2 separate regions of the Homo sapiens genome follow, and region 1 is linked to region 2. The links come from fine-mapping of genetic effects on gene expression. Tissue or cell type: testis. Region 2 holds a variant in brackets; the other region holds the start of a gene. All regions are shown on one strand. Distances are between the middles of the regions.

The links. PIP is the estimated chance that this variant, and not a neighbour inherited with it, causes the effect.
Region 1: OOEP starts here. The variant in region 2 is fine-mapped to the expression of OOEP in testis (GTEx, PIP above 0.99).

Annotation. Positions count from the first base shown.
Region 1 is chr6:73,367,982-73,371,981 of GRCh38, reverse strand. It overlaps OOEP (oocyte expressed protein), which reads left to right and starts at 2,085. Exons shown (of 3, transcript NM_001080507.3): 1 at 2,085-2,379; 2 at 2,597-2,776; 3 at 3,119-3,427. The coding sequence starts at 2,190. The coding sequence ends at 3,198. OOEP-AS1 (OOEP antisense RNA 1) reads right to left here and starts at 2,278. Exons shown (of 2, transcript NR_174946.1): 1 at 1,897-2,278.
Region 2 is chr6:73,392,198-73,396,922 of GRCh38, reverse strand. It overlaps DDX43 (DEAD-box helicase 43), which reads right to left and starts at 2,095. Exons shown (of 17, transcript NM_018665.3): 1 at 1,768-2,095. The coding sequence starts at 2,017. LOC124901538 (small nucleolar RNA U13) reads left to right here and starts at 2,910; the gene lies at 2,910-3,010. It also overlaps a transcript of OOEP not described here. RefSeq lists an enhancer at 1,978-2,478. The variant C/A (reference allele first, on the strand shown) is at 2,347.

The DNA of each region.
Region 1 (4,000 bases), 25 kb after region 2:
CACGAGCCACAATATCTGGCCTTGATTAGGTTAAGGGGTTTTTGTTTGTTTTTTGAGATGGAGTCTCACTCTGTAGCCCAGGCTGGAGTGTAGTGGTGCCATTTTGGCTCACTGCAACCTCTGCCTCTGGGGTTCAAGCAATTCTCCTGCCTCATCCTTTCGAGTAGCTGGGATTGCAGGTAACCACCACACACTGGCCAAATTTTTTTATTTTTATTTTTTTTTATTTTTGAGACAGAGTTTTGCTCTTGTTGTCCAGGCTGGAGTGCAATGGTGTGATCTTGGCTCACGACAACCTCCGCCTCCTGGGTTCAAGTGATTCTCCTGCCTCAGCCTCCTGAGTAGCTGGGATTATAGGCATGCACCACCATGTCCGGCTAATCTTTTGTATTTTTAGTACAGACTAGGTTTCTCCATGTTGGTCAGGCTGGTCTCGAACTCCCGACCTCAGGTGATCTGCCCGCCTCAGCCTCCCAAAGTGCTGGGATTACAGGCATGAGTGACCGTGTCTGGCCCACACCCATCTAATTTTTGTATTTTTAGTAGAGACCGGTTTTCTCCATGTTGGTCAGGCTGGTCTCAAACTCCTGACCTCAAGTGATCCTCCTGCCTTGGCCTCCCGAAGTGCTGGGATTATAGGCATGAGCCACCTTGCCTGGCCAGGTTAAGGTTTTAAATGTTTATTGCATCAGAGCCATAGCTAAATCTTGTTTTCCTGTAAGTATGCCCTGCACACCTGATAGTCAAGTTTTCTCAGAAACCATTGAGGGTGAGAGGGGGTGGGATCAGGGGCAGAAAACTGGAACCTCCACACAGTCCTAGATGATCATGTGGAGTCTGGAACATGCTTTTCACTATTTTGAGTTTTTTCTTCTATGCTGGCTGTGGTGGCTCACGCCTGTAATCCCAGCACTTTGGGAGGCCAAAGTGAGAGGACTGCTTGAGCCTAGGAGTTCAAAACCAGCCTGGCAACATAGTGGGACCCTGTCTCTACAAACAGACAAACAACAACAACAACAAAAAGAGCTGGAAAATAGCTGGGTGTGGTGGCAGGTGCCTGTGGTCTCAGCTACTCAGGAGGCTGAGATGGGAGGGTCGCTTAGGCCTGGGAGGTCGAGGCTTCAGTGAACCGAGATCGTGCCACTGCATTCCAGCCTAGGCAAGAGAGTGAGACCTATCTCAGAAAAATAGAAGTTTTAAAACAAACACATAGTTAATTGTAAGAACGAAATAGTATATTCAGCAGATACTATTCTGAAACAACCAAACAATATTTCTACAAATATAGTAGAAAATGTGTAAGGACATGCATGGGGATGATATATACACACTAGCTTCAGGATGATTTCCTCTGGAGAAGGAAAGGAAAGATGCTTGAGTAATATCTGTTTTAAAAACAGAGGAGTGAGGCAAATGTGGGGAAATGTCAACATCTGTTAAACTCGGGGAGGGTACATGGCCGTGTTATATTACTTTTTTGGATGTGTGAAACCTTTCATAATCCAAATTTTTAATTAAAATTACAAACATTGGGAAAAAATGTCCATCGATAATGGTTGTCTTAGGATACTGGAAATAAAGGAAAATTGTCTAACTTGCTACATGTTCTATAAGACCACCTCTGACGTGTTGTTTAAAACATGACACACTTGCTTGAATGATTTAAAAATGGTAACCATCCGGAGAGTCAGAAGATAACAACAGGGAGCAGAACAGAGAAAACTGACACATTGAACAAGCCTGCCCTGGGTCCGATATACCTATCTTTGGGAGGCAACGATGAAACCTTAACCTAGCCAGCAAAGGTGATTCCCAGTCTATTAATAGAGTCGTCAATTCAAACTCACACTGTTAATCAGCTATAAGGTGGGCAGAGGACTTTCAGGCTAAGCATACCTTACGAGCAGAGATGACGAAGGAGAGCATTGGAGACCCAACAGGAGGCCAAATGAATACTAGTTCAAGGTCAAAGAGGCAATCCCGGCGATTGAAGCAGCGCAGGAAGTGTCCAATGGTGCCGCTATGCCGGGGCGTCGCTTGCACCCGCTCACCCCGACGCGGTGCGAGGCGCCGCCGGAAGGGGCGGAGCGGGTCGAATATGGTAAAAGAGAGCCCGAGCTTCGCGCCTGGGTCTGGAAGAGGTCTTGCGAAAGCCGCCTCGAGCGCGCTCCGCGGCTGCTGGTCCCAGTATGGTCGATGATGCTGGTGCCGCTGAGTCCCAGCGGGGCAAACAGACTCCGGCCCACTCCCTGGAGCAGCTGCGTAGGTTACCACTTCCGCCGCCACAGATTCGCATCCGGCCCTGGTGGTTTCCGGTGCAGGAACTGAGAGACCCTTTGGTGTTCTACCTAGAGGCATGGCTGGCAGACGAGCTCTTTGGTGAGCGACCCCAGGTGTGCTAGTGGGCTGTCCACCTCCAGTCTGAGAGAGGCTTGGCAGAGCAGCTCTCTACAGTCTCTTTCCCAGATTCGCAAGCCAGGAGTGTTGCAGTGATGCCCACCTTCCAGTTCTTCCCTTCCCTGGCCAACATTCCCTTCAAATCCAGCTTCTAACCTGCCACCGTGCAGCCCCTCAGAGTTTTTCCTTACTTGTTTAGGCCCAGACCGAGCCATAATTCCAGAAATGGAGTGGACGAGCCAGGCCCTGCTGACAGTGGACATAGTGGACTCAGGGAACCTAGTCGAAATCACCGTTTTCGGGCGGCCCCGTGTACAGAATCGGGTGAAGAGCATGCTCCTGTGCCTGGCATGGTTTCACCGAGAACATCGTGCCCGAGGTGAGGGTCTTTGAGAACCTGCATGTGGAGGAAGCCACGAGTGACCATACTGGCCTTGCTCGGTTTCCTTCCATCCTCCCTTAACCTTCTCAAAATTTCTTGGTTTCCAGACCCCAGGGAGCTAGCTGTACGAAGTTTGTTGGGAGGGGATCCTGGGGTAGGACCTTGGGAAAGTCAGCAGAGATCTGATAGATTCAGACCCATCACTGCCCAAGTCAGCCTCACCTGGGTTACAGCACTATCGCAGATCTTTCTCTCCTCCCCAACTCCCAGTCACGGAGTAGTTCGAAACAGCAAACACTTGTCCCTGTCCATGGTTAGTATCAACTGCTTCTCTTCCAGCTGAGAAGATGAAACACCTTGAGAAGAACTTGAAGGCCCATGCATCAGACCCCCACTCTCCCCAGGATCCTGTTGCTTAAGACAACATAGTTACTGTTGGGAACATCTTAACTTTCTAACTTTTGCTGCTAAAGTTGAAGAAAAGCAAGTATAGCATTCTTAAATCCCCGTATTCCTTTTTCCTGTGTCTTGATGGATTGTGGTTTATTTTGTTGCAAGAGTGAGTTTGAACTATTCTAATAAAGAAATGGCTATTTTGCCAAAAGCATTAAGATCTTCACACACTTATAATAAAGCAAATTTATAAAAGATTGACTCCCACTCATGTTTTGATATGAAGGGTGGGCAGGTGATAGTTTTGTAGGTTTTTGTTTTTGTTTTTTTTTCCTGAATTCCCATCATTTTGAAACTCCTAATCCTTTTATGATTTTCTGGTCAGAGAGAGGCCCTCACCCACAGGGAGCGGATATGCAGGGGCAGATAACCTCACAAATGGTGATCTGTTTTGTTTTTACATAATTGGTCCTCAAACTTTAAAGCTTGTAAGAAATCACCTTGGGAGCTTGTTAAAACACAATTTCCTTGGCTCCTTCTCCAGAGAATTCTGATTCAGTACTTTTGGGGTGGGGCTTAAAATTTCATTTCTGATGAGCTCACACATACTACTAAAGCAGCTTATCTGAGGCTCTCACTTTGAAGCTGGTAATTGATCCCCCGAAGAGCACCAGCTGTGCGTTTTCCTGGAGTGGGGCATCCATTGGGCAGAGGATGACGTTGCAAGAAGCAAGCCTGGGCGGTCAGCGTTCATTAATGGTAGTTTTCGATTTACCACGGAAGAGCAGGGTTCCCAGGCACCTTGGCTCGTGGATGGCGCCCTGCCTT
Region 2 (4,725 bases):
ACCATTCAGCCTTAGTAAGGAAAAAAATCCTGTCTCATGCTACAAAATGGGTAAGCCTGGAGGATATTATTCTTAGAGAAATGAGCCAATTACAAAGACAATTACTGCATGATTCTACTTATATGGATTACCTAAAGTAATCTAACTCAGAAACAATGTAAATGGTGGGTCCCTGGGATGGGGCAGGAAAAAATGGGGAGCTGTTCAATGAGTATACAGTTTTAGTCATGCAAGTTCCAGAGATCTGGGATACAACATTGTGCTTATTATTAGTATTGTGATATACGTTTAAAAGAGGGTATTTCATTTTTTACAATAAAAAAGATGGATCCAGATCCAACATCAAGTGAGTGCTCTGTAGCACAGTGCCCTTTCATCTGCTAAGTATTAACTTAAGTGATTTTTATTGCAAACCTAGTGGCTTTCTTTCTTGGAGCATCATTCTTCAGATCTGAGCCCAAGCCTTCTGAAAGGCCAATGAGTCTCTGGGTAGTACAGCAATTAGTCTTACAATGCACTATTTTGTAGCAGCCTCCATCTATTCATTTTTCTCAGGTTTTAAAAAGGGTGAAATACACCTAATAGGTAAAATGTGGCAATTTATACTCGGGCTTAATGGCAATCAATGGGGTAATCATTCTAATCATTTTTAAATGCTTTTCAAAAAAATTCAGAAATGGGCCGGGCTTACGCCTGTAATCTCAGCACTTTGGGAGGCCGAGGTGGGTGGATCCACAGGAGTTCGAGACCATCCTGGGTAATATGGTGAAACCTCATCTTTACTAAAAACACAAAAATTAGCCAGGTGTGGTGGCGCACGTAATTTCAGCTACTAGGGAGGCTGAGGTGCTAGAATCGCTTGAGCCCGGGAGGTGGAAGTTGTAGTGAGCCGAGATCACGCCACACTGCACTCCAGCTGGGGCCACAGAGCTGCCTCAAAAAAAAAAAAAATCAAAAGAAAGAAAAAAATTAAAAATTCAGAATTGAATGTTAACACTCAAGATGTAGTAAGAAAAGTTTTTAACTTTTTAAAAATTAAGGAAACTAAAAGCAAGATACAACTGCTCTAGGCAGCCCTACAATGACCTTATAGCTTTTCTTTGATTTCTGGCTCTAAATGGTACTCATAGAAAGACTGATTAAGTTTTGTTTTTCATTCTGGGGTTAGCTGTCTGTTAAAAGGCCTGTTCTAAGCATCCCTCTTCAGCCCTAAGATTTCATAAGTCTTCTAGGAGTTGCTCTCCCAAATACATTGTCTGTATAAACACCAAAAGGTGGATTAAATTACTTTTTTTTTTTTTTTTTAATTGAGACGGAGTCTTGCTCTGTCACCTAGGCTGGAGTGCAGTGGCGCGATCTCAGCTCACTGCCAACTTCTGCCGCCGGGTTCAAGCCATTCTCCTGCCTCAGCCTCCGGAGTATCTGGGATTACAGGCGCGCGCCACCACGCCCAGCTATTTTTTTTAATATATATATTTTTAGTAGAGACAGGGTTTTGCCATGTTGGCCAAGCTGGTCTCGAATTCCTGACCTGGGGTGATCCGCCCGCCTCGGCCTCCCAAAATACTGGGATTACAGGCGTGAGCCAACGCGCCCGGCCAGATTAAATTATACTCTATCCCCAGGTTTTACAAATAGCTCTGGGAGAGACCTGAACCTCACTAGGTGGCAGCTGATTGGAGGTGAGGCAGTGGGGAGGAAATGCCTTCGCCCAGGCTCCGCCCCTGGCCCCACCTATCCTGCCCTGCCAGCCACTCCCATTCTCACCGATTACCGCGCCAACAAAGTGGCTCTTCAAAGCAAAACACAGCGGCAGTTCCTCGTGACCAGCGGCCACGGCCTCCGGGGGCCTAGAGGTGCCTCTCCAGCGACCACCTCTGCCGACACTATATCCCTCAGGACCTGTTCGATTCAACTCCTCCGCCGGCCTCCTCTCTGGCGCTCGGGACACTGTCGAGCTTCGCCGACTAGCAACGACCCACGTAGAGGCCTTGGGAGCTCCTCCGTGGTGGGACATTGTTCCAAGAAGGGGCGCGTCCGACGTCGTTGCCGTCCAGCTCTGCACCACCTGACCGTGACGTCGTAAGAGTAGCGTGCCAGGGAAGCCACGCAGCCGCTACTTAAGGAGCCCGCACGAGGCTAGCCCCCCCGCCCACGCTCTCTATCCCGCCCACTTCGCACTGATTTCACGCAGCCATTGGCCAGTGAGCGTTGTGGGCGGGACTTTCCCAGTTTTAGCCAATCGGTTTTCTGAACCGTGGGAGTGTGCCTTGAAGTAGTCGATGTGCCCCGCCCCCCACCCCCCCACTGTGTATTCCTTTCCAGGCGTGGGACTTTTTCCAAACG[C/A]CCAATTTGCTCCCTCCCCTACTGGACACACACCTCGGGTTCCTGGCATCTCAGTGCCTTGGAAACTTTTTTTTTTCTTTTTAAATAGAGACGGGGTGTCGCCGTGTTGCCCAGGCAGGTCTTGAACTCTTGGCTTCTGGCTTCAAGTGATCTTCCAGCCTCGGCCTCCCAAAGTGCTGGGATTACAGTCAGCCACTGCACCGGAAATGTTTTCAACCGTGACCCATAAAGGTAAGTCACTGTTACAAGGTGACCCAATCCACACATAAAAAACTTGAAACAACAGATTGACAAAACAGCATTTATCCTCGCTATGTAAGCTGCATTTTGATACATTTACGCTTATTTTAGTTTTTGAAATGGTTGTAATCCACAAAATTAAAAAAAAAAAATTTAATAGAGATGGGAGTTCCCAGTATGTTGCCCAAGGCTGGTCTTGAACTCCTGGACTCAAGTGATCCTCCCACCTCCACCTCCCATAGTGCTGGGGTTACAGGCCTGAGCCACTGCACTCGGCTCACAAAATGTATTTAATGGCCCACAGCTTAAAGATCACTGACTTGATCCTTTTGTAAGTCATAAGTGTGATTGGGTTTTCATGCTCTTGTGTCAAATGTGCCTCCCTCAAACCTTGTTACGAAGTGGGCACACTACCCACCTGATGTGAAAAATGAAGAGAAAAAGATCACTGGCTTGAGAGACATTCATTGCTCTACACAGTCTTCTGGATGTTTGCTATGTTTTTTTTGTTTGTTTTCTTTTGTTTTGTTTTTGACCTCTGTCGCCTAGGCTGGAGTGCAGTGGTGCGATCACTCACTGCAGATTCGACCTGTTGGACTCAAGTGATACTCCCACCACAGCCTCCCGAATAGTTGGGACTACAGGTGTGCACCACCATGCCAGGCTAATTATTTTGTAAAGACAAGACCTCCCTATGTTGCCCGGGCTGGTATCCAACTCCTCCTGCCTTGGCCTCACACAGTTGAGGGATTACAGGTATGAGCCACAGTGCCTGGCCTGCCATAATTTTAGAGCTAAGGAAATAAATTGAATAGATTCCTGAAGCATTACCGTCACTGCAGCCTGGCTCTGTGGCTGGACATACTACTACTCCAGGGCTTCAAGCCAGCTGCAAGTGCACTCCTTTGATTAGGATCTTTGAATTATCTGAACAAATTTCAGTTTAGGCCAGCAGGGATAACTCATACCTGTAATCTCAACACTTTAGGAGGCCTAGGCGGAGGATCTCTTGAGCCCCAAGGTTCAACATCAGTCTGGGTAACATAGTGAGACCCTGCCGGGTGTGGTGGTACAGGCTGTAGTCCCAGCTACTCAGGAGGCTGAGGTGGGAGGATCACTGAGCCAGGGAGGTTGAGGCTACAGTGAGCCGAAGTGCCGAAATGGTGTCACTGCACTCCAGTCTGGGCAACAGAGCAGAGACCCTGTCTCAAAAAAAAAAAATTTTTTTTTTTTCAGTTCAATCATCCATCAAACACAGTGGACACCAGGCCAGGCATGGTGTGGCTCATGGCTGTAATCCCAGCACCTTGGGAATGTGAGGCAGGCAGATCACTTGAGGTCTGGAGCTCGTGACCAGCCTGGTCAACATGGTGAAACCCCATCTCTAATAAAAATGCAAAAAATATTGGCTGGATGTGGTGGCTCATGCCTGTAATCCCAGCACTTTGGGAGGCAGAGGCGGCTGGATCACAAGGTCAAGAGATCGAGACCATCCTGGCCAACATGGTAAAACCCCATCTCTACTAAAAATACAAAAATTAGCTGGGCGTGGTGGTGTGCGCCTGTAGTCCCAGCTACTTGGGAGGCTGAGGCAGAATAATTGCTTGAACCCGGGAGGCAGAGGTTGCAGTGAGCCAAGATTGTGCCACTGCACTTCAGCCTGATGACAGAGCGAGAGACTCCATCTCAAAAAAAAAAAAAAAAAAAAAAAAAAAAAGATTACCTAGGAAATAGGCCAGGCGCGGTGGCTCACACCTGTAATCTCAGCACCTTGGGAGGTTGAGGTGGGTAGATCATCTGAGGTCAGGAGTTCAAGACCAGCCTGACCAACGTGGTGAAACCCCATCTCTACTAAATACAAAAAATTAGCCAGGCATGGTGGCGAATGTCTGTAATCCCAGCTACTTGAGAAGCTGAGGTGAGAGAATTGCTTGAACCTGGGAGGCAGAAGTTGGCAGTGAGCCAAGATTGCGCCATTGCACTCCAGCCTGGGCAACAAGAGTGAAATTCCATCTCAAAAAAAAGATAAAAAAACATTAAATAAATGATAGGCATTTAATCTCCATTCTCTAATCTTTAATCTGAAATGGGTAGTATTAACAATCTTTAGAAAGGAATTTTGTTGGATTCAACGTGCTG